Regions from separate parts of the Homo sapiens genome. Here regions 1 and 2 are each linked to region 3. The links come from fine-mapping of genetic effects on gene expression. A gene starts in region 3. Each other region holds a variant in brackets. All regions are shown on one strand. Distances are from middle to middle.

Region 1 (8,173 bases), 86 kb after region 3:
GGAACGGGGAACTGATGCCCCTGGTCAGCTGGGAAGAGTCTGGGCAGGGAATGGGGAGGGTGGGGCCCTCGGGGGCCTGCATTCGGGATGGGCAGGGGCCCTGCTTCCGTTTAACCACAGCCCTGTGACATGCCCCAAAAGGGAAGCAGCAGCCGCCTGTCCTCACCCCTCCGTGCCCTAGGGAGGGGGCTGGGGATGCCCAGGGGTGGGGAGCAGGAGTCTGGGGAGGCCTCACCCTCCCACCCCAGGCCTCGAGTCTGGGTTCTTACAGAACTCTGGGGTCAGCTGAACCCAGCTGGTGACCTCCATCAAGTCCCAAGAAGACCTTGGCTTCCTATTCTGTAAATGGAGGATCAGTCTCTCTGGAATGTTCTCAGATTAGCACACAGTGGGTCCTCACTGAATGGCTAGCCAGCAGTTGTTGGTTGAATAAGCTAAAAGTGTTTTTCTCCCTGAAAGGAGTAGCCAATTAGATAAGGAACCCATGTATATGACATTCCACAAATATTTATTGAGCACCTATTAGATTTCAGGCATTGTCCTGGTACTGTGGAGCAATGAACAAACAAGACAAAAATGCCCCCGTCACCTTTGGAGCCCACATCTCTTTGGAGCTGCCCTGCCTTTCCTGGTTTGTGGCAGACATCACTAATTGATCATCTTTCCTGCTGCAACCAGAATTCTCTCCAACACCGTGCACCACTCAGAGACTGACATATGGTGGGGAACAGCCTGTCATCCCCAGGGAGGGATGGCACGTGGGGACTTGGAAGGTCTCAGTGAGAATCTTCTAGCTGATTTAAGCAGCTTCCTCTCAGTCTCTTTCAACAAATATTTATTGAGCACCTACTTTGTGTCCAGTACTGTGCCAGGCATTGGGGATACAGCAGTGACCAGGGTGGACATTACCCTTACCCTCGTGGAGCTGATGTTCTGGTGAGAAAGACAAGTAAACAAATAAGCAGACACTTCCAGACACAGATACTACAAACACATGCCAGAGGCATATGGTGGAGGGTGACAGGGAAGGAGTCTGGGGTAGGTTGGGGTTGGGGGTTCTGGAGGGAGGGTATTTATTGAGACCTCACTGAGATGCAGCCACCAAAGGAAAATATGGGGGAAGGTGTCACAGGCAGCACAGCAAAGGCATAGGCCCGGAGTGGGGAATGAGGTTGATAGATTTAAGGGACAGGAAGGAAATAGTGTTGCTGGCGGGGCATGAATGTAGGGGAGAGAAGCAGGAGAGGGTGGTGGAGACCAGGCTGGGGCCATACATCCAGGGCTCGGGGCCAGGGGTGGGCTCTGAATCACATCTCCAATGGGATGGGCAGTCACTGGAGGGTCAAAGCAGGGAAGAGACTTGGGCGGGATCCCATTTCAGATCCCTCTGGCTGTGTGAAGCAGGGACACCCAGCCGGAGATGGCCGCAGATGTCCAGGCGAGCGAGGATGGCAACTTGGACGGGGGCGATGCCAGTGAATGTGGGGAGAGATGGCCAGGCCTGGCGGGAGGCCCAGGGCTCTGCATTCAGTTTCATTTTTCCTTTTACACAATCCCCCCCGGCCCCGGGCACTCTGGGTCACTGGACTTTCCCTGGCACTGCCGGTGGGGCCCACAACCTGCTGGCAATCTGGCCTCTCCGAGTCCCAGCTGGTTCCCTGCCCTGTCCTGGACCCTTCCTCTCCAGGAACAGGCCCAGCTCCAGTTCCTCTGTCACTGTTTCCCACCACCTCCTGCCCCAGGTCTGCCTGGGCCCTGCTGATCTCCTAATTCTGCCTCTGCTCCAGCACCCCCTGCTCCAGCCCTGCTGGCTGCCTGGGAGCCGGCAGATGCTTCCTCTGAGCTGCCTTTTCCAGATCAAGTTTGCATCCAAGGAAGCGAGCCTGAGACTCCCAGCCAGCTGGGGGAGACAAGTTCGAGGGAAGTACCCCAAGGTAGCTTGCCAGAGGGCAGCCTCGCTCTTGGGCAGATTTTTCCTCTGGTCCAGTTTGTTGTTGGATGGAGCAGGCAGATCTACCTTCCCCACTGACTCAGGCCTTGGGTGCTCGGATGGAGACTGTGGCCGAAGAGCTGTGTTGAGCAGGGCTCTGAGGCTGCATCTATGATACTAGGAAGGAGACTCATTATTGATTAGTGATGCCTGCTGTGGACCCAGGATGGAGGATAGGGGCCACGCTGGCCTCATAGGTGTGTCTGCGGCACCCAGTAGGTCCTCAGGTCTGCACTCCCCTGTTGTACCTCTAAATCTTCAAGTATAACAAATGCTGTTTGAAAATACCTTATGATGGTGGGCCGAGGTGGGAGGATCGCTTGAGGCCGGGAGTTCCAGACCAGGCTGGGCAACAGAGTGAGAACCCATCTCTAGAGGGGAAAAAAAAAGAACTAGCTGAGTGTAGTGGTGCACGCCTGTAGTCCCAGTTACTTGAGAGGCTGAGGTGGGAGAATTGCTTGAGCCCAGGAGATTGAGGCTGAAGTGGGCTATGACTGTGCCACTCCACTCCAGCCTGGGCAACAGGGCAAGACCCCCCATCTGTCTTAAAAAAAAAAAAAGGAGAAAAAGAGAGAGAGAAAATACCCCATGGCCTTGGTTTCCTTATCTGTGAAATGGGGATGATGATGACAAGCCCCCAGAGGGCTTCCCCGCACCCTGGCAGTGACTGACACAGAGGCCCTGAGAGCTGCGTGTTCCAGAGTCATGCAGCTGGTACATGGCCGAGCTGGTGGGGTTTGAACCCTGGGTGCCTGAGTCAGGGAGAACAGGCGGAACAGTTGGGCCAGGGAGGGGAAGGTGCTGCCCAGAGCTCCCAGTGACCTTGGACCCCACTTCTCCTTTCTGCCCAGTGTGCTCGGCACACAGGAAGCCTGGCGGGGCCTCCCTTGCCCATCCTGTCTGCAGCCGGGTGGACACGGGGTCCCGGCGTCACCCACCGCCACCCAGGCCTCCTCCTTCCTGTGTTGTGCAAGACGAGGCGTCCCCTGTGTGGAATGGGCAGGCAGCTCTGGCGATGGGTGGACGGGTGAATGGGGGCCTCTCAGGCGGGGTCACTGCCCGCGGTTACCTCTAGCAGGCCTGGCCTAAGCCTCCGCCCCTTCCTCCTCCTTCTCCTCCTCCTCTGTTTCCCCAAAGTTCAGGCAGCCTTAAGCAAGAGGCTGTGGGACCCAGGAAACTGGGGAGGTTGTCCAGCCACCATCTTGTCCCCACAGAGCAGACCTAGGCTTGCGCAGTCTTGGAGAGGTCCTAAACAACAACAACAACAAAACTATAATAATAATGATAATAGCTGTTATAGTGGAGTGGCTTCTATGCACCAGGCATGCTCTCATTTAACCACAAATACATAAAACGCACCTCCTATGTGCCACGTGTGATTCTCAGACCTTTACCTCATGTCCCATCGAATCCCCGGCAACCCTTGTGAAACAGTTTTTTTTTTGTTTTTTTTTAATGATTCCTTTCTTCAGAGTAGAAAACTGAGGCTCTGAGAGATGAAGCTACTTGCCAAGGTCACGCAGCACAGTCACATCCTACTGAACATCATCCTGTTCTCTGGGGTGAGTGCTGTCCTGGAAGTTGGGGGGCTCAGAAGCTGTTGGTGCCCACCTGGGAGGTCGCCCTTGCAGCTGCTATCCTGAATCTCTTGCCCAAGGGCTTCCTCTGGCCACAAGAGTGTGGGAAGCAAGTGAGAGACCCCTGCCAGTAGAGGTGGGGTCTGTTTGTCCCCCCACTCAGCTTCCTTGCTTCTGGCTCAGGGGACAGTGGGAAGGTACTTTCTGCGAGTTGTCCCAGAGGCCTCTAGGGGGTTGGGCTCCTGTTGCCCACTGAGGAGACCTGCTCATCTACCTTCCTTGTGTCACTTCCTCACTCCTTCCCAGTGTTTCTAGAATCACCTCCCAAATATCCCACTTGCACCCAAAACCTTGTCTTGGGTCAGCTTCTGGGAGCCGACCTAAGCCAGCAGCTATAATGCTCAGGGCTTAAGAGCTTTGGAATCAGATGGACCTGAGTGTGAATCCCGCCCCTGCCACTTAACCTGAGTGTGAACTTGGGAGCCTGCCCCACCTCTCGGAACCTCAGTTCCTCCATCTATGAAAAGGGAACTTACGTGCAGAAAACCAAGTGACTATGAGGGGGATGGGGCAGTGTGAGATGACGGGACCAGAGCACGTTCCTGGCTGCAGAGGCCACAAGTCACGCTGTCTCTGAGAGGTATGGGGACAGGG[G/A]CGCAGAGGAAGAATGATCGCGAGTCCTCAGCCCTGTTTGGCTGACGGGGGACAGGGATGGGTGGGAAAGAGGTACAGCGTTTTTCCACCTTCCCCACCCATCACCCCTGAGATTCCAAATGAACATCGGGACCAACCCCGGGAGCCCAGCGGATGTTCAGGGTAGGGCAAAGAACAGGTGCCAAGTTTGCTCCCTGGGGTGTGAGACTGGGCAGCCTCAAGAGCTGCATTGGTAGGACTTTCACCAGGTAGACAGCAGGCACCTCGCCCCTGCAGATCACAGCTTCCAGGGCCACCTGTCCACAGAATCCCTTCACTGATCTGTGCTTGAGGCAGGGGTGTGTGGACTGGGAGTCCTTCTTTTACTCTGGGTGGGGCCTCATGCTCAGAGGGAGCTCTGTCTACCCCCACCACAAACCTGCAGTTTCCCTGCTACAGCGATGGCAACCTCAGCCACCTGGCTGCCCAGGCCCCCAACCTGGGTTCTCCCTCTTGTTCCCATGGTCAGCCCATCAGCAAACTCATCCACATGTCCAAGGGTCCACCCCCACTACCCTGCCCTGCCCTGGTCCAGCTAGGATGTTTGCAGTCGTCTCCTCATTGGTCTCCCTGCCTCCTCTCTCGCCTTCCTAAGCCAGAGGAATTCTGTAAGAGCTCAAGTTAGATCCTATCCCTTCTCTGCTCAGAACCCTCTATGGCTCCCAACTCACTCAGAGCAGAAGCCCACAGGGCCTGCAGGATCTCTGCCCTGGCCCCGCCTGACCTCACTGCCTCTCCCTTCTCTGTTCACCCACAGCCACGGTGGCCTCATCTCTCTGCCATAAACTTGCCAATTATCCTGCTGCTGCCTCATTGACTTCGCACCCACTCTTCCCTCTGGAACAGAGGACACTCTCGCCAGCTCTCCCCATGGCGGATCCTTGTCTAGGGTCAGGCCTCTGCTCCAAAGTCACCCCTGGGGACACCTTCTCTGACCAGCCCCTCATTCCTATGGCCTCATGCTGTTTTTATTTCTTCCTAGGACTTAGCACGTATCCTAGAAATTAACCTGCTGGTATATCCTGTTTCTTGTCTGTCTCTTTCCAGTGGAATGTCACCATCGCCCAGGTGGGGATTTTTGTGTGTTTTGTTCACTGCTGTACACCCAGCCCCCAGCACAGCGCCTGTCCAGGACAAGTGCCCAGTAAACACTTGGGAAGCAATGCAAGCGTGCGTGCATGGATAAGTATTTCTTTGGCAGATGAGGGGGCTAAGGTTCAGAGAAGGCCCTGGGGGTCTCAGACTCATAGCCCAGTGCTCTTTCTGCTGACACGCCCTGGTCTCTGGGGCAGTTTGTTGCCTGTTCAGCAACAAAGAGGGTGTGCCTCGTTAGGGGTCCTGCGTGCGAATCGCAGTCCCTGCGTGTCTTGGCTGGAGGTCACCACCCTCTCTGCTCCAGGGCCTGTAATTACCACTTACCCTGGTCAATGGGTCCGAGAGATTACCCTTGTAGGCAGGGCTGTGGCCAGGGTGCTCACCTGGCCCCCAGCAGGTCCCATGGGCACTGTCTGGCCGGGCTTCATGGCTGACATTCCAGGTACATTTCTAGCCCTGGGCTGCCATGGGCAGAGGGTGGGGAGAGGGTCGTGGGCTTCAGGCTGGACAAACCAGTCAGCCTTCCCAGCTGGGCCGCCTGACCACCCACTTCCTGTGGGGCTCCTTGAGGCCTGGAGGGTGGAGGGGGTCTCTGTTCAACCCCCACCCATGCCCTCTTCCCTTCTCTCCCTCGGCAGGTCCTCCCAGCAGCTCCTGCAAACAGACCCCCGACCCAAGCCCTTCCTTCTGCCTCCACTGCCACCACTGCTGCTCATCTCTGCTGGCACAGAAGTCTCTTCCCTGGTCTTCCAGAAATCCCCTCTCCACACTCAGCCAGAGGGAGCTATTAAAACTGTGGGCCAGCCCACATCAGTCCACAGCAAAGTCCTCTCTAAGGGATCTCTGTTGCTTGGAGAATAAACCCTCGGATTCCTTCCTTGGCTCTCGGGGCCTCCTCTCTGACCTCCCTCTGTCTCCTCTCCCAGCCTTCCTCCTCACTCACCCTCCAGCCATGCTGGCTTCCTCCTTGCTCCTGAAACAGCCTGAGGCCCACACTGCCCCGGGCCCTTTGCACTGGCTGTTTCCTCTGCCTGGAACACTTCTCCTAGGCATCCACAGGGCTCCCTCCCACAACTCCTTCGGGTGCCCACATGGGAAGCCATCCCTGACCACCCCCCCGACTTCCTTCTGAGCAAGGTAGGGTCTTTCTACCTAGTCATGAGGGCAGGGATTTTTGTCTGTTGTGTTCTCTGTGTGCCCCCAGTGCCATCCCAGTGCCTGGCAGATGGTAAGTGCTCGACACACATTGGCTGACTGCCTGAATGAACAACTCTATGAGCCGATGGCAGATAAGGACACTGAGGTCCTCTGGGGTAGGTGACCAGCCCAAGGCCACACAGCTGGTCTGAGATTAGGCCAGGAGAGGAGCCCGGGTTGGTCACATCCTGGAGTTGGCGTCTTGGAAACTGCATCAGGAGAATAACAAAGATGAGACGCAGGCTCTAACAAGTGGATACCAGTGACTCTCGCCCCGCCAGCCCCAGCCCTGCAGCCTTGGGCCCTTCCAGGAGTCATGGTCTGCCTGCCTGGGGCATTCCAGGCTTCGACCCAGGTCCTGCACTTTCTATTTTGAGCCTCTTAGTCCTGAGGACTGTGTGTTCCCAGCAGGCGGCGCGGGCCAGAGGCTGAGCCTGGGTGTGGCTGTCACCCTATCTGGGGCCAGAGACCCAGATTCCCGGGCCCTTAACCTGTTGGCTGCTGAGGGCTCTGGCATAAGCCCTGTTCCCTGCTTGATTGTCTCCCCTTCAAGCCCCTGCCCTGGTATCGTATCGGCCCATCTCACCTTGGATTATATCCCTGTTTGGCCCCATTTGAATCCTGGCTCTGCCCCTTTCCAGCAATGTGACCTTGGGCAAGTCACTTCATCTCTCTGGGTCTCAGTTTCTTCATCTGGGAAATGGGGACAATAAGAGTACCTGTCTCTGGCCATGTGTGGTGACTCATGCCTGTAACCCCAGCGCTTTGGGAAGCCGAGGCGAGAGAATTGCTTGAGACCAGGAGTTTGAGATCAGCCCTGGGCAACATAGTGAGACCCCTGTCTCTACAAAATTCTAAAAAAATTAGCCGGGTGTGGTGGTGTGTGCCTGTAGTCCCAGCTATTCTAGAGGCTGAGGCGGGAGGATTGCTTGAGCCCAGGAGTTTGAGGCTGCAGTGAGCTATGATTATGCCCCTGCACATCAGCCTGGGTGATAGATTGAGGCCCCATCTCTAAAAATAACAATACTAATAATAAATAAAAATGAAAATGAGTACCTGTCTTCTGGGGTTGCAGAGGAGATTCAATGTGATGAAATTGATGAGAGTGCCCTGCAGGGAGCCGGAAACTCAGGGAGCATCGATAATGAGTCCCCCACCATCAGCAGCTGGCTTAAATATAAAAACTGTCATGGCCTCTGGAGAAATGACAAGAATTCGAAGGAGCTTCCCTGCACTGGCCACCCTACACCCTACACCCTTACTTCCTCCCCTCAACTTGCCTGGATTTATCGACCCCCACTACCCCACTGGTTGCCTTCTCTCCACCTGGCACATTTCGTATGAATTTGCTTGTTGGTTCTTGCCTATCTCCCCAGTAGAACATTAGCTCCTTCAGGACAGGGACTTTTGTCTACCTTATGCACCTAGTGCAATGCCTGGCACACAGTCGGTGCTTAATAAATGTTTCTTAAAAGAACCAATAAATGAATAGTGACCTCTCCGGGGAGAGGAGCCCTGAGCTCACCTCCTGCCCCCAGCCCAGGGCTCTTAGGTGCTTGTTGGTGTCAGGCCCAGGCCCCCCTCTCATCAAGCAGCCAATAAAACTGCCCTGGTTGGCGTT
Region 2 (8,173 bases), 150 kb after region 3:
ACAATTCATAAAAGGAAAAAAATTGATAAATCGGACCTCATCAAAGTTGAAAACTTTTAACCCATGAGAGGCCCAATTAAGAGGAGGAAAAGACAAGCTACAGATTAGGAGAATATATTTGCAAACTGCATATCTGACAAAGAACTAGTACCTAGAATTCTTAAAACTTGACGGAATTCTCGAGAACTCTCAAAAGTCAGCAGTTAAAAAAATCCAAATAGAAAATGAGCAAAAGACACAAACAAATATTTCACTGAAAAGAACATGCAGATGGAAATAAACACATGAAAAAATGTTCAACATCATTAGCCATTAGGGAAATGCAAATTAAGGCCACAATCGGATATTGCTACACACCTATCAGAATGACCAAAATAAAAAACGATGGGAACTTTCGCATTCAATCACTGGTGAGGAATGGAGACACTAGAACACTCATACATTCCTGATGGGAATGTAAAACGGTACCGTATTCTGGAAAACAGTTTTTTAAAAACTGCCTTATGACTTGGCAGTTGCAATCCTGGACATAAAAATGAAAACTTATGTTTGTGCAAAAACTTATGCTCAAATCTTCATAGCAGCTCTCTTCATAATAGGCAAAAACTGGTAAACCACCCGGAAGCCTGTCTATGGTTTTTTTTAACTAAAAAAAGCTGTGTTATATCCATACTATGGACTGCTACTTGCAATACAAAGGAATAAAATATTGATAACACACAATTTGAATAAATCTTCAGAGAATTATGCTGAGTGAAAAAAACCAGTCCTCAAAGGTTACATAAACTATATGATTCCATTTATGTAACATTCTTGAAACCACACAATTATAGAAATGGAGAACAGATTAGTGGTTGCCATGGCTCGGGGGCAGGGTTGGGGGTGGGAGATGGGTTTGGTTATACAAGGGCAATGAGGGATCCTCGTGGTGATAGAAATGTCTGTATCTTGACTATATCACTGTCAATATCTTTATTGTGACTGTTAACATTGGGGGAAACTGGAAAGGGTATATGGACTCTCTCTGTTTATTTCTTACAACTGCATGTAAATCTATAATAATCTCAAAAGAATACATTTTAAAAAGAATATATTATACAATTTTCTATACCCAGACACTACTAAATATAATTATATCTTTGGTAACACAGACACACTGTTCTCAGATAACGGAAGTAGTGCGGTGATTATGTGTGTGACTTGACAATGGGATGGGCTGGGTTCAAATCTCAGCTACCAGTCCCTTCACCTCCTTGGGCCTCAGTTTCCACACCTGCAGGTGCTGAGCAATGAGAGGAACTGTCTCGTGGGGTTGCTGGGGGGACACGATGACGTGATTCATGAGACATGCAGAGCACAATGCTCACTTGCAGTGGCTGCCCAGTAAATGAAATTGCCACTTTTCCGGGCTGTAGAAAAGGCTACAGGTAGAGGCAGGCAGAGGATTGGACCCGAGAGCATCCTCTGAGAGCTCTAGATTGGGATCATGTCTCACCAGCCAGGGGGTTTGTTTTGACTTCTTTCTTGCAGGGAAGTGTCTGCTGAGTGGTCCATTCCACTCCCCTGAGTTTGGCCTGGTCGCTTCTTGTCTGCCCTCTGGACCCCGGTGGGTGCAAACTTTCATGGGTGTCTCTCCACCTGGAGCCTGTGGTTGGGACTGCTCAGGTGGGGACACAGCCTGGGGGGTGATCCTCTGTAAGGCAAAATGGAGCAGGAGTGGAACCCATGCCTACTGCATACCTATTGTGTGCCTTGTGACTTACGTGCTGCAGCTCACGGAATTCTCCCAACAACTTTGAGCAGTAGGTGCTATAATCACTCCTGCGTGATCCAGAGAAAACCGAGACTTGGTGAGGGGAATGGACTTGTCCAAGGTTGTGCAACTAGTAGGTGGCAGAGCTGAGATCTGAGCCCTGGTCTGTCTGATTTAAATCCAGAATCATTTTCACTGTTGATAATAACCTCACCACTTATTAAGTATCTACTAGAGTAATCAATATGCTAGCTCTTTCCATTGAGGTATGATCACCTTTCCATTTTAGAGAAGAGGAAATAGGGGTTAGGCAAGGTGCATTGCCAAGATGGACAACAGCTCTCAAAAAACAGCCAACCTTGCAGCCAACGGGCAGCTTTCTTGTGTGCCCCCAACCCCACCTGTAGCTCCAGCCCAGCTCAGCCAAGATCACTCAAGCTTTGGGACTTTTAAATGCTGAGTCAGCAAACAGCCCCTACCTTGAGATACTCTGCCTAGGCAGACTGTGGTTGTTTGCACTTCAGCTTCAGGCCTCCAGGGTCAGCTGAGATAGCAAGACCTTCCCCTGGGGGCTGGATGGGGTCATTGGGAGCCACTGAGAGACCCTTTCCCCACTTGGCCTGGCAGACAGAGTGGCAGTTGGAAGAGGCTCGAGGTGGCTGTGGTGGTAACAACTTCCTTTTGAGTAATAACATTTACTGAAAAGCAATTCTGCTTTTAGCACCAGAAGTTCACCATCCTTGCAAGCAGGCGCCTAAGAATACCTTCATTCAACCACAGTTCAGAGATTCACAGACTTCCTTTTGCACTCCCTCCAGGAGAGTTTCACATTTGGTGTTGAGGGAAAACCAAATACCACAATTATTGGAGGGGGTGGGAGGGGTGTTGAGAGGGAGGTGATGCGAAGGAGGCCAGGTGGCATCAACCACAGCCCCCAAGGCCTCACAGGCAGCCTCTGGGCAGCGGCTCAGCCTCTCGCCCTCAGTTACTGGAAAGACAGCGGACGAGCTCATAATGAAACCGACAGGCTGACAATTTATCTTCCTTTTACAAGAAAAAGAAAGTGATTGTCCTTCAAACAAGCATGACTTTGGAAGCCAGGGACTTACCCTGGCCACTCTGCAAATTAGAGACAGAGCCAGGCTGCTCCAGAGGCCCCGAGCCCCTGCCTGTCACCCCCAATTAGCGCTGGAGTTCTTTAGGCTCGTTTTTTCTATTGCCCAAAATCCAGTCTACTGGGGCATAATGGGGACTTATGGAAAGAAAAAAATCCAATCTGCACTTGGGAGGGGATAGCCTTAAATGTTAGGCACTCACCGCAGGCAGCTGGGGGTGGCTGAGGGCAAGGGAGAAGGCATGGGTGGGGAAGGAGGGGATGTGCCAGGCAGAGCCAGGAGGCTCCAAAAAGCAGCTCTAAAAAGCTCTCCCCCTCCCAGCAATCCAGCCTCCTGACTCACGCCAGACACAGAGGCAGCTGATGGGATGGGAAGAGGCTGGCTTTGGGAGCCACAGGGATGTGGGGGCAAACTCCAGCTCTGCCACTTGCTGGCTGTGTGACCTTGGGTGGGTAACTTCACCTCTCTGAGACTCAGTTTCCTCACCTTTAAGATGAGGATGAGTATAGGAGGTCAGGACATGACCTTCCTGTGCTCAAAACCCTCCCACGGCTCCCACCTCACTTGGCAGAAAGTCAAAGATCTCTGTGGCCTACCAGGCCCTACAAGATCTTTCCCATGCTTCCCTTATAACCTCATCTCTCTCTCTCTGTCTCTTTTTTTTTTTTTTTTTTTAAGACAGGGTCTCACTTTGTCACCCAGGCTGGAGTGCAGTGGTGCCAACACATCTCACTACAGCCTCAACCTCCTGGGCTCAAGTCATCCTCTCACCTCAGCCTCCCAGATAGGTAGGACTACAGACACATGCCTCCACGGCCAGCTAATTTTTGTATTTTTTGTAGTAGAGATGGGGTTTTGCCATGTTGCCCAGGCTGGTCTCGAACTCCTGAGCTCAAGTGATCTGCCCACCTTGGCCTTCCAAAGTGCTTGGGATTACAGGTGTGAGTCACCGCGCCTGGCCCATCTCCTCTTACTCACTCTCTCTGGTTCCCTCTACCCCTGCCACACTGGGCTCCTCTTTGTTCCTCCAACATGCTAAGCACACGCCTACCTCGGGGCTTTTGCACACACTGTTTCCGCTGCCTTCAGCATCCTTCCTCCAGATAGCCACAGGGCTTCTTCCCTCTCCTGATCTGGGTGTCTGCTTAAATG[A/G]CCCCGGGGGTCCTGCTCTGACCCCCGGCCCTTCCAAATTGCTCCCCTGGCCTTACCTCTTCACCCTGCGTGAATGTTTTCCCATAACACTGACCACTACTTGACACAATAATTTAGGGGGTTCATAACTCCCCATTGGCCAGACTGTAAGCTCCCAGCAGGCAGAGGCCAGTTCTCCACTGTCCTCCATTAAATCTCAGAGCCTGGCACATAGGGGGCACTCATCCAGCATTGAATGAACAGATGCAGGGTTTTGTGGTGAGAAGGGAAGAAGGACGTGTGTGGCGGGTTCAGCACCAGCCCAGGGTGCGTGCTCACTGTCACTTCTTCTCTCCTCTGCCCAGCACCAGCCCCATGTCATGTGCTTGTTGAATTCCTACAATGGAAGGATGCATTTTACAGATGCAGGAATGAGACCACAGAGCCCAAGCGACTGTCTCAGCCCGCAGCGGGGCAAGGCTTTGAATTCTGGTCTGCGGGTCTCTTGGCCTCCAGGACAATGGTGACAGTGTCCAGTCTGACTTGGGGTCTGGGTGAGAGAAATGGCTGGTGGGGCCATCAGACTCTTGAGAAGAGGCCCTGGCTTTGAGGATCTCCAGCCGACATCTGGGCTTAGGACTGGGGTTCACGCCCCGTCCTCCTGTCCCACAGTCCCACATTCTGCCCCAAAGCAGAATGCAAGCCCCATCAAGGAGGCTCAGGGTTTCCAGAGAGGGGCTTCCTCAACTTTCTGTTGCTGGAAAGTTCTGTCCCAGAAAGGGCAGACGCTTGAGGAGCTCCTGGATCCGGCAGAAGGCTCTGAGACTAGGAGACCCCTGGTGTCCTCGCTCCCCGGCACCCCGCCAGTTCTCGAATACAAGGGACTTTCCAGAGAAGTCAGCCTCCTGGCTGCCTCCAAGCCTGCCCAGGCCTGCAGGCCCAGGTCTCCATGAAGCTCAGTCCTGCCTCGGTTTCCCTGTTTTTAATTTCTTGGAGAGGCCAAGGAGTTTGGAGGTGAACAGCCTCATACGAGCACTAATTTCCCCTAGGCCTGGGGCATAGGAATTTTGGAGCCATAAACAGGCTTCTCACAGCCCCCATGATGAGTCCTCCCCACACTCCATCCACCCTGGACTCTGGGCTGAGCTGGGCAAGGAGCTGGTCTGGGGTGGGCTGGGTGTTGCCTGTGGGTGCGGCTCAGAGCTGGGGGCGCTACCTCTGCCCTTCTGTCCCCCATCAGAGCTGCCCCAGCTGTATGAGAACCCCTCCCACAATGGCTACAACAGAGGGCACGCAAGTGAGACGCCAGGAAGAACTGCTTCAGCTTCGTTATCCTCAAAGGTGTTCGTACCCATCAAGCCTCCTAGAGCAGACCTCCATGACAGCTGCCCATGGGACAGGTCCACTCTGGAGATATGTTTAGTTTGGTCCTTAAAGTATTTTTTTTTAATGTGAATCAATTGCCAACATCTGACATGCCAGGAGATTTCACATAAAGTCCTTTTCTCTGGCTTCTCTTGAAAAATGGGAAGATGTGGCCATACTGGGCCCACATTCCTACTGGACACAGGAGGCCTGGGAGTGGGGTTGCGGGAGGCCCTTTCTTAGTGGCACATAGTAGGTACTTTCCTGTTCACCCAGTCCCTGCATGCCCCACTTTCCTCATATCATTTCCTTGCCAGGGTCTTGAAGTATGAGTAGGAGTGCGCCAGAAAAGGGCAGTGGAAAAGCGTTCCAGCAAAGGGGAACAGCGTGAGTCGGTGAGATGCATCTGTTCAAGATTCACTCGACAAATATGTATTGATACTTACTGTATACACAGGGACATACAGCAAGAAACCAAACAAATCAAAATCTCTGCCCTCTGGTTCTCAGCTAGAGGTGGTTTTGTTCCCCATGGGACACTTGGTTATGTCTGGAGATGTGTGTGGTTGTCACAGCTGGGTGGAGGGAGGGTGCTATCAGCATCTAGTGGGGAGAGGCCAAGGAGGCTGCTGAACCAATCCTACAAAGCCCAGGGCAGCCTTCAGGTGCAGAATGATCTGGCCCCAAATGTCAGTCAAGCCAAGGTCGAGGGACCCTGGTCCGGGGGCACAGACACCAAATAGGACAAGCCAATGAACTCAAACCGTGAAGCCAGCAGCTGATGAGCACTTTCGGATTAAATGAGCCGGAGCATGGTGAGAGGGATGCAGAGGGGTGTGGCTGCTCAAACAGGTGCCGTCTGCACAGGGGCAGGTCCTGAAAAGATTGTGGCACTGCTGGCAGGGTGGCCCTGGCATTGTAGGTGTTCACTGAGTGGCACTTTCTTTTTTCCACCCTGCCTAATCTTCATGACGTCCTTGCTGTGGAGCAGGGATCTGTGTTCCTGACCGGGCATCGCAAGCCGTTAAGAGGCTGACCCAGGGCTCCTGACCACTCAGTCAGTGTCCTTGTGCTGCCTGGAGGTAGTGATGGTCTCTGAATTGCCTCCTGTCATTCAGTCAGTCAACAAACATCTAACAGGAGCCCATTGGGGCATAGGGGGAGGGAGCAACTTAGGGTGAACTGCTCAGCTTACAACATGTGGTAGGTACGCAGGAAAGACTGGTGAAAGGAATGAAAAGAAAGAATAAGTGAATAAGCAAGCCTCAGGCCATTAAGACAATGATCATGGCCAGCATTGATTGAGTGCCTACTGTGTGGCAGGCTCATCCTAAACCCTCCATGTGAGAGTCTTACAGAAGGAACACCTCTGAAAGGGGGGCCAACGACCATCCCCACTTTCAAGGTGAGAAGACTGAGGGGAAGAGAGGTGATGTCAACTGCCCGAGGCCTAGCAAGAGAATGGCAAGGCTGTCGCCGGAGCCTGGGCCTACCAGATCCCAGGGTGCACCTGCTGCCTCAGTGTTGTGTATGCTGTGGCTCAAATCGTTATGCCACCGGCCCTGTGAGGGAGGTGCTAGCATTATCCCATGTTACAGATGAGGAAACCAAGTCTCAGAGACAGGAAGTGACTTGCCCAAGGTCACACGGCATGTGTGTTTGAATCTAGATTTCACGTTTTCAGCCACCAAACCCTGCCCCTCGTAAGCCCTGGCCGCTCTGTGAGGAGGATGCGTAAGTCCCAAGGGGTTGGGGAGGGAAAGTGGGCCAGGGAGCTAAGCCCTCCAGGGTCTGCAGGACCAGGCAGGAGGCTCTGAAGGAGGCAGGGTCCCTGGTGGGCAGATGGGAGCAGGTGGGCCTGGGGAGCCGCCAGCCTTCCGCCCCCACGTGCAGGCATGCCCGCCAGGAGGGCCTGTGGAGAGGCCGCCCCGCGGTGTGTGCCAGGCTGACAATGGCTCCTTGTGTCTGTGCCGACGGTGGGAGAGGGGAGGTATTGTTTGCCAGGACACCTTCCCGCCAAGGCTGGCTGCAGGCGGTCCTTGTCCTAGGACGCTTGGCACGGGGCTGTTCCGGGCGCCAGAGGGAAGTGTGTGTGTGCATGTGTGTGGCTGGGTGTTCTGGGCCACGTTGGTGCTGGCTGCGGCTCCCTGGGTGTGCCTGTGCACGTGTGTGTGGGGTGAGGGCATGTGTGTCTATCTGAGTGTGCCCATGCACGTCTTGCACACCCATGGCCAGTGTGTCTGAATAGTCTTGTGGCTTGGGGCTTCCATGTGTCTCCCTGGGCGTGGCTGTGGCTGTGACTTTACGTCTGGCACCGTGTGTCTCTCTGTACCTCTGGACCACGTGTGGCTCTGAGCACCTTTGGTTTGCGTGCCCATGTATGTCTCAGCCTGTCCCTCTGCTTGTGTCTCCATCTCCCTCGGGGTCTGTCTGTGGAGCATCTTGATCCCAAGGGGGCAAGAAAGCCTCTGTTTCAGAGTGCGGGCTGAGTTCCATTCGTGGCTGATAGGTGAGGGAGGGGGCTTCAGGCAGAGGGAATGGTGGGTGCCCAAGCTGGGGGGCAGGATGGAGTTGGCAGATCTGCAAGAGCAGCCAGGAGGCTGGGTGGCCGCAGTGAAGTGAGTGGAGGTGAGAGGACACCAGGGGCCACCTGCAGGCCAGAGTCCAAAGTGAGGGGCAGCCATCAGAGGATCTGGATGGGACCATGACATGGTCTGTTTCATGGCAACGCCTTTGGCTGCAGGTGAAAAATGGGTTGTAGGGCAAGCCTGAGAGGTGTTGGGAGTCGCTGTGGCCAGTGTTAGGAAGC
Region 3 (8,173 bases):
TCTATCACATCCATGGCACCGGCCTTTCCTGATCCCAGAGCAAGGGCGCCCAGCGGATCTTCACGCATGTGAATGGCTCCTGCAGTCCCAGAACCTGCCACCTGGGGGCAGTATATACTCAGGCAAGTTTCACTACCGGTCCTGAGCACCTCCCGTCTCCAAAATCCTGGATCTCAGAACCTCGGAGCCTGGCAGCCCTTGGGGATCTATCTCTGCCAGCCCCACTTGGCAGATGGGGAAACTGAGGCCTCAGAGAGGAGGCATGATGGGGAAAATCTCAAACATTGGAATCAGGGAATCTGGCTTTTAAGTCTGGCTCTTGTACCCATTCACAAGGGTACAAGGGGGATTTGGAGGGGGAAGTAGGAAGTTCTAATCCTCTTCGGGCCTCAGTTTCCCCATCTGCCTGCTTTGTGGGGTGAAAGGGACATCTGATTAACTCTAATGTGTCGGGGAAGGCCAGCAGTGAGGGGTAACAGCAGGCCCAGAATCCCAGATAGAATATTATCACCTCATTTTATATACCAGGGACTGAGGCCCAGAGGGGACACCAGACACGGCCGGAGAGCCACAGCATGGAAGGCACAGGGCAGCATGAAAGGCCATCCCCCTGCCATCCCCCTGCCCCACGCCCACTAGAGACACCCCCCCATTCATGTTCTGATGGTTCACCTCTCCGCCATATTTTCCCACCTGCTGGCTGATTTCTAAGCCCTTTTGCAGAACACTCTCTGTCAAAGCAGCCACGTGGATCTCCCCTTGGCAAATCGCCTCAGTTTTCTCCTCTTGAAAATGGGATAGGGAAAAGCTGCAGAGATGGGGAGGAGGAATTGTGAAAAGCAGTTTGGGGGCAGAGGAGGACGTGTGTCCCAGGTAGGAAAGTGCCTGTTCCCTCCCCGCCCCCGCCTGGCTCCTGCCCACCACCATGTGGCCACGTGGGCCCAGCCCACAGCTTCAGGTTTTAAAAGAGGAGCTGGAAATTTGAATTTTGATGTGAAATCTCCTGATTTTTAAATGTTGGCAATAAATTCACTTAAACACACACACATCAAGCAAAACGCTATGGGGTCAAATTGAACACATCTGTGGTCTCGATTTGGCCACTGGCTGCCAGTTTGAGATCCTTTCCGGCTCTAGGTTCTGAGGGCAGGTGACTGGGAGAGGTGGCGCCAGGGGGATCCTGGTTTCCTGTGCCCACACAGCCACTCACGTACTCTGGGCCTCTGGGCCGTGGTGGTTCAAGCTCCCACCATCCCCACTTCTTGGGGAAAGGCTGAACAGTACTGGGGTGGGGGTGGGGGAGCAGCAGGCGGGGCCTGTTGAGCAAGAGCCTTGTAAAAACAAGGGCTTACGTCATCCTAGCTTGCAGCTTCCCTGCAGGACACCTGGGTCGGCACCGGGGTGGGACCTGCGCTGAGAAGGGATGGGTCATCCCCAGCAGGGGGTGGAGGGTGGGGAAGGGTGGCAAGCATGTTCCACCCCAGAGGCCAGAGGGCCTAGACCCCTGCTGGGGCTGAGTCTGGTCTTTGGGGGCTGGCCTGCAAGGTCCGAGTAACACCTTAACGCACTGTGTGACCCCAGGTCTACCCTTCTCTGTGCCTCAGTTCTTCTATCCAGAAGATGGGACTCACATTGCCAGGCCTGTTATGACAAACCCAAGAGGGAAAGTCAGACTGGAAAGATTTTATTCCTTCTCATCCTTTCATGTGACCTGGAGCAGACACACTTAGCTCTTCTGGGCCTCAGTTTCCTCATCTATAAAGTGGAGATAATGATAAGACTGTGGCCTGGCGCAGCGGCTCACACCTGTAATCTCAGCACTTTGGGAGGCTGAGGCAAGAGGGCCACTTGAGGCCAGGCGTTCGAGAAAAGCCTGAGCAACAGAGTGAGACATATCCATCTCTACAAAACATTGAAAAATATGAAAAAAGAAGAAGAAAAAAGACCTGCCTCCTACAAATTATCAGTAGGATTAAATGAGTTAATACATGCAAAGAGCTTGGAATGTGGTTCAGAGAAGGTGGAAGTTTGGCCTAAGAACACACAGCAAATCCTCCAATTAGCTTCAGTTCCCCCATATCTCCCTGCATCTCTTCAGAATCCAGAAAGGGAACGTGGGCGAGTGCTTTGGTTCAGAGAGGGGAGCCATTTTGCCTAAGGTCACACAGCCCAGCTAACGAGGAACCTCTCCTTCTTCTCAGCCTCCTCCATTTATTCACTCACCATTCATCGAGCACCTTCTATGTACCAGGCTCTGTTCTAGGCACCAGGGACACAGTAGTGAAGGCCGTGGGGACAGACAGCAAGACTGGCAGGCAAGATAATTCTGATTATAATGAGAATGGTGACGGAAATGAAGCAGGGGTGTGAGAGGAGTGACTGAGGGCCTAGACTTCCCATGGGAAGGTCAGGGAGGGTTTCCCGGAGGAGGCAGCTTTTGGGCTGAGACCTGAGGAGCTGCCTTGGGCAGAGGTGGGGTGACAGTGTTCTTGGTGCACAGGGAACAGCAAATGCATTCCTTCACTGGTAAATGTTGAGCGTGCTGTGCTCAGGAGTCCCTCGTGGGCCAGCCCTCCCCAAGTGGCAGCCTGCAGGGAGACTGAGGTAGACAGCTAGGATAATGGTGGCTGGCGATAGGGAAGGAAATTCACTAGCAGGTGGGACAGGGAGGGCCTCTCAGAAGCCGTGGCCTCTAGCTCAGCCCTGAGTGTCCCATTTTGCAGTGAGGAAGGGCTGGCCGGGTGGCCCTAGGGAAGCTGCCGCACCCCTCTGGGCCTTGATCCCTCCCCAACCCAGAGGCTGCTGGGAAGACCCAGAAAGCCAGCAGGCTGGGCCAGTGTTTTATCCCCTCCCTCCCTGCCTCCTACCCACCAAGGGTGCCCAGAGATGTCATTTCTCCAGCTCTTGGGGGCGGAGGTCACCCCAGCTCAGCAGATAACACCAAAGGTTGAGCAATGCCCGCCTGCCCGCTGGGGCCAGGGCTGGGGTCAGTGGGCTGGGGATCAGCCCCGGGCAGGCTGGGAGCTCCTGCCTAGGTGGCCTGGGCTAGGAGTGGCAGAGAGGTGGGCCCAGGGAGCTGCCCCAATGGCCTAGGAATGGGTCCGGGAGGGCAAAGGGCCCTCTAACCTGAGCCTACCCAGCAGAGGCGGGCAAGTGGTCAGAAGGCCTTGGGCCTGTGTTCAAGTCCAGGCGGGCCGTTGTCGCTTTCCCGTCTGTGAAATGGCAGCAGCAAAAGCATCTTCCTGGTGGGGTGAAAAAAGTTGAACCTCGGGGTGCAGGCCCACCGTAAGCACAGGGCAGGGACTTGGTAAAAACTTATCTTTCTCTTTCCTTCTCTTTCCTGCATACCACCCCCTCCCGTGAGGCCTCGCTTAAGTCCCTCCCTAGCAACTTCAGAAACAGAAGTTTTTGGCCTCTGGGACTGGCAATAGGTCTTAGGGCTCAGATGAGGGCATTTCATTTGGGATGAATGGGGGACATGCGGCCATGTGACCTTGGTATGCCACGCCATGCTCTCTCTGGGCCTCCACTGGCACAATCCGTGGGGGTCCCGTTCTCTCTGATGTGCAGCCCACAACGTAAGCCTTAGGTTTGGGAGTCTGGTGGGAACAATGCCACCACCACTGACAGTAGCGACACCCTTCATGGATTGCAGCTGGGAGAAGTGAAGTGACTCACCCAAGGTCACACAGTGTGGCAGGGCCGAGCACCCCCCGCCCCTGCCCCATCCCAGGGCCCAGGTCGGGTGGCGCAGCGCGGGGCAAGAGAAGACCCGGGCGTGTCCAAGCCTCGAGCAGGCGGCAGGTGTGGTGGGCGGGGCTAGGGGCGGGGCTCCGTGGACCAGGGTCCAGCCCCAAGCGGGGCGCGATCCTGCCCGGTCGCGCCGACCCCCGGGGTCCTCATATTGTCTGTGGCTTAAGAGGGGAGTCGTCACAGGCGTCAAGTCTTCTTTCTAAAGCCGGGGACCTGGGGAGGAGGTGGGAGTTTACGGGAGGAAGGGCCACGGAGATGGGTCGCTTCTCCTGGAGCTAGAGCTGCGGGCTGGGGTCTCCAGGGTTCGGCCCGGGGAGCCGACCCTGGTCGGCCGTCGGGGCTCTGCTCGGCCCTCCTGAAACCTCCGCCTCCTCCAGCAGGGGGCGGGCCGGGGCCGCGTCTCGGGGGGAAGGCGATCAGGTCGCCCCCTCCTCCGATTCCCCCGCCTTCCAGGACAGCCTCCAGCCCAGAGGGGCGGTCCGGGGGCGGGGTCGCACCGCCCCCTCTCGCTCCCAATCCCGGGGCGGCCGGGCGGGGGTGGGCAGGGGGCGTGAGGCCGCCCCTGCGTCCCGGGGGCCCCCCGAAAACGCGCTCCGGGTGCCCGGTCCCTCCGCTGCGCCCTGCCGCCGTCCTCCCGGGGGTCTCGGGCGGCCGCGGCCGTGTCCTTCGCGTCCCGGCGGCGCGGCGGGAGGGGCCGGCGTGACGCAGCGGTTGCTACGGGCCGCCCTTATAAATAACCGGGCTCAGGAGAAACTTTAGCGAGTCAGAGCCGCGCACGGGACTGGGAAGGGGACCCACCCGAGGGTCCAGCCACCAGCCCCCTCACTAATAGCGGCCACCCCGGCAGCGGCGGCAGCAGCAGCAGCGACGCAGCGGCGACAGCTCAGAGCAGGGAGGCCGCGCCACCTGCGGGCCGGCCGGAGCGGGCAGCCCCAGGCCCCCTCCCCGGGCACCCGCGTTCATGCAACGCCTGGTGGCCTGGGACCCAGCATGTCTCCCCCTGCCGCCGCCGCCGCCTGCCTTTAAATCCATGGAAGTGGCCAACTTCTACTACGAGGCGGACTGCTTGGCTGCTGCGTACGGCGGCAAGGCGGCCCCCGCGGCGCCCCCCGCGGCCAGACCCGGGCCGCGCCCCCCCGCCGGCGAGCTGGGCAGCATCGGCGACCACGAGCGCGCCATCGACTTCAGCCCGTACCTGGAGCCGCTGGGCGCGCCGCAGGCCCCGGCGCCCGCCACGGCCACGGACACCTTCGAGGCGGCTCCGCCCGCGCCCGCCCCCGCGCCCGCCTCCTCCGGGCAGCACCACGACTTCCTCTCCGACCTCTTCTCCGACGACTACGGGGGCAAGAACTGCAAGAAGCCGGCCGAGTACGGCTACGTGAGCCTGGGGCGCCTGGGGGCCGCCAAGGGCGCGCTGCACCCCGGCTGCTTCGCGCCCCTGCACCCACCGCCCCCGCCGCCGCCGCCGCCCGCCGAGCTCAAGGCGGAGCCGGGCTTCGAGCCCGCGGACTGCAAGCGGAAGGAGGAGGCCGGGGCGCCGGGCGGCGGCGCAGGCATGGCGGCGGGCTTCCCGTACGCGCTGCGCGCTTACCTCGGCTACCAGGCGGTGCCGAGCGGCAGCAGCGGGAGCCTCTCCACGTCCTCCTCGTCCAGCCCGCCCGGCACGCCGAGCCCCGCTGACGCCAAGGCGCCCCCGACCGCCTGCTACGCGGGGGCCGCGCCGGCGCCCTCGCAGGTCAAGAGCAAGGCCAAGAAGACCGTGGACAAGCACAGCGACGAGTACAAGATCCGGCGCGAGCGCAACAACATCGCCGTGCGCAAGAGCCGCGACAAGGCCAAGATGCGCAACCTGGAGACGCAGCACAAGGTCCTGGAGCTCACGGCCGAGAACGAGCGGCTGCAGAAGAAGGTGGAGCAGCTGTCGCGCGAGCTCAGCACCCTGCGGAACTTGTTCAAGCAGCTGCCCGAGCCCCTGCTCGCCTCCTCCGGCCACTGCTAGCGCGGCCCCCGCGCGCGTCCCCCTGCCGGCCGGGGCTGAGACTCCGGGGAGCGCCCGCGCCCGCGCCCTCGCCCCCGCCCCCGGCGGCGCCGGCAAAACTTTGGCACTGGGGCACTTGGCAGCGCGGGGAGCCCGTCGGTAATTTTAATATTTTATTATATATATATATCTATATTTTTGTCCAAACCAACCGCACATGCAGATGGGGCTCCCGCCCGTGGTGTTATTTAAAGAAGAAACGTCTATGTGTACAGATGAATGATAAACTCTCTGCTTCTCCCTCTGCCCCTCTCCAGGCGCCGGCGGGCGGGCCGGTTTCGAAGTTGATGCAATCGGTTTAAACATGGCTGAACGCGTGTGTACACGGGACTGACGCAACCCACGTGTAACTGTCAGCCGGGCCCTGAGTAATCGCTTAAAGATGTTCCTACGGGCTTGTTGCTGTTGATGTTTTGTTTTGTTTTGTTTTTTGGTCTTTTTTTGTATTATAAAAAATAATCTATTTCTATGAGAAAAGAGGCGTCTGTATATTTTGGGAATCTTTTCCGTTTCAAGCATTAAGAACACTTTTAATAAACTTTTTTTTGAGAATGGTTACAAAGCCTTTTGGGGGCAGTAATTGGCTTTTGTTTTTTATTTTTTTACTTTATTTTGGATTTGTAGGATTTTGTTTTTGCGTTTCTGGTGTGTAGGGGGTTGTGTGTGGGGGGCTGCTGTTATTTTTGGAGGTTTTGGTGGTTGGGTGGGGGTGTTGCAGCTGGTTTTTCTGCCTCCTCTGCTACTCCCCCTCCCACACACACAGGGTCTGCTTGAGATGGGGTTCCAGCCCCGGGGGAAAGGGGAGAAGAGTAATGGGTCAGGCATTCAGGCTGACTCAGAGCCCCTAGGCGCCGGGACGGGTGGCTGGGAACCCTGCTTGAGAAGAGATTCCGGAGCCTCTGGCTGGTCCCGAGTGTCAGGCTTGGGTTTGGAAGGGCTGGGAGGTCTGTGACCCCTGCCCTGTGTTTGGGGACTAGGTAGGCAGGCCTGTGACTGTAGGAGGAGGGGGTTCAGGTCTTGGTCCTGCTGAGCCCGAGTCAGGGCAGATGCTTTTGGTCAGTGTAGTGGGGTGGGTTGTTTAAAACACAGTTTGTGTATACATGTGTATTTTAAAGAGGGGAGCCTGGGTGTGTGGGCGAGTCTGTGTTTGTGTGTCCCTGGCCAGCAGGAGGGGAGAGGCCAGGCCAGGTGGAGAGAGGTGGGGGAGGGGTTCCCACACTTTGATTACCTTTCCTGAGGATGGGAGGCTCATCACTTGCTCTCTTTGCCCAGACTTGGACACTGAGCCCACCTCACCTGCCTGCTCAAGGTGGCTGAGCCCAGGCACAAACGTGGGGCTGCTAGCCCTGATTCCCTGGGACAGGCTCCTCTTCCCTGCCCACTGATCCCTTTGCCCCTTCCGGCTTCTCACCGCACCCCCTACTCCCATCCAGCCCTGGATGGCATTCCTGAGAGTTGAGGATGTAGATGGATGTGAGTGGATACATGTACAGCGTCCCACAGTGCCTGGCACGCAAGAAGTGTTATATAAGCGCTTGCTCTTGTTATTATTTTTTGCTGGGAAGCTGCTGGCATTTGGCACCCCAGTCTCCAGTGCAGCGCCAGTGTGGCCAGTACTTGCCAGGGGCCGGCATCTGGTAAACACTGGACCTGCCCCATCCCATTTAGACCTCACAATAACCTTTGGGAAGGTGGGGATTGTTATGACGCCTGTTTTTAGAGGTGGGGAGCAGCTTTGGGCTGTCCGATCCCTATGGGCAAGACACTGGTTGGGGGTTGCCCTGCCCTGAGGAATTCAGGGGCAGCAGGCATCGTAGCCTGGTTTGCCAAGGACCTGGGGCGGTCTGGGATCTCAGGAGCAGTTGCTGATACCGTGGTTCGCGAATGGGAAATGCTTTGCCCCTCCTTTTCCTTTTGGGGGCCTGGTTGTGCTTTCCCTGTGGGAGCCTGGGATGTGGGGAACAGACAGCGACACTCATCCCCCACCGCCACAAAGCGGAGGATTCCTATAAGCTCCACCTCCCTAATGCCAGTGTCTCCTGATGGTGGCTCGAGGGCTATGCAGATTGCTGGACACAGATAACCTCACTTCAACCTGGGACCTGCAGCGTGGCCCTGACCACGTCCCCTCCCAGCCCTGGGCAACTGGACAACTGGCCGGGCATGCCTTCAAAGCCTCGAAGTCAGTTCAGTCCCAAGCCCCACTGGTCTCGATGGTTTCTGTCAGTAGCAGCGACAGCAATGTGGGCTTGACCTCAAGGATTTACTTGCTGAAGGCAGAGGCTGAGGGGCTGGACCTAGGGAAGGAGGGAGGTGGAGAGGGTCGAAATTGAGGAACAAATCTCAAATCCCTGCTCCCTCCTTTGTCACCAAGAGTTGGCT

Evidence for each region. PIP is the estimated chance that this variant, and not a neighbour inherited with it, causes the effect.
Region 1: its variant is fine-mapped to the expression of CEBPB in whole blood (TOPMed, PIP above 0.99).
Region 2: its variant is fine-mapped to the expression of CEBPB in whole blood (INTERVAL, PIP 0.95).

What each region holds. Positions count from the first base shown.
Region 1 is chr20:50,272,184-50,280,356 of GRCh38, forward strand. It overlaps PELATON (plaque enriched lncRNA in atherosclerotic and inflammatory bowel macrophage regulation), which reads left to right. Exons shown (of 4, transcript NR_170992.1): 2 at 3,468-3,552; 3 at 5,308-5,430; 4 at 5,994-7,605. Among named protein-coding and RNA genes, the nearest start is that of PELATON, 8.8 kb to the left of the region's middle. RefSeq lists enhancers at 2,443-2,944, 2,945-3,444, 5,289-5,826, 6,829-7,123. The variant G/A (reference allele first, on the strand shown) is at 4,222.
Region 2 is chr20:50,336,397-50,344,569 of GRCh38, forward strand. No RefSeq gene overlaps it. Among named protein-coding and RNA genes, the nearest start is that of LINC01271, 19 kb to the left of the region's middle. RefSeq lists an enhancer at 2,718-2,917. The variant A/G (reference allele first, on the strand shown) is at 4,021.
Region 3 is chr20:50,186,320-50,194,492 of GRCh38, forward strand. CEBPB (CCAAT enhancer binding protein beta) reads left to right here and starts at 4,511. Exons shown (of 1, transcript NM_005194.4): 1 at 4,511-6,349. The coding sequence starts at 4,715. The coding sequence ends at 5,752. CEBPB-AS1 (CEBPB antisense RNA 1) reads right to left here and starts at 5,750. Exons shown (of 7, transcript NR_125739.1): 1 at 5,345-5,750; 2 at 4,949-5,103; 3 at 3,679-3,966; 4 at 3,137-3,242; 5 at 2,224-2,308; 6 at 694-808; 7 at 1-101. RefSeq lists enhancers at 276-365, 7,218-7,779 and silencers at 4,044-4,453, 4,413-4,707, 4,534-4,743, 4,884-5,323, 5,744-5,853.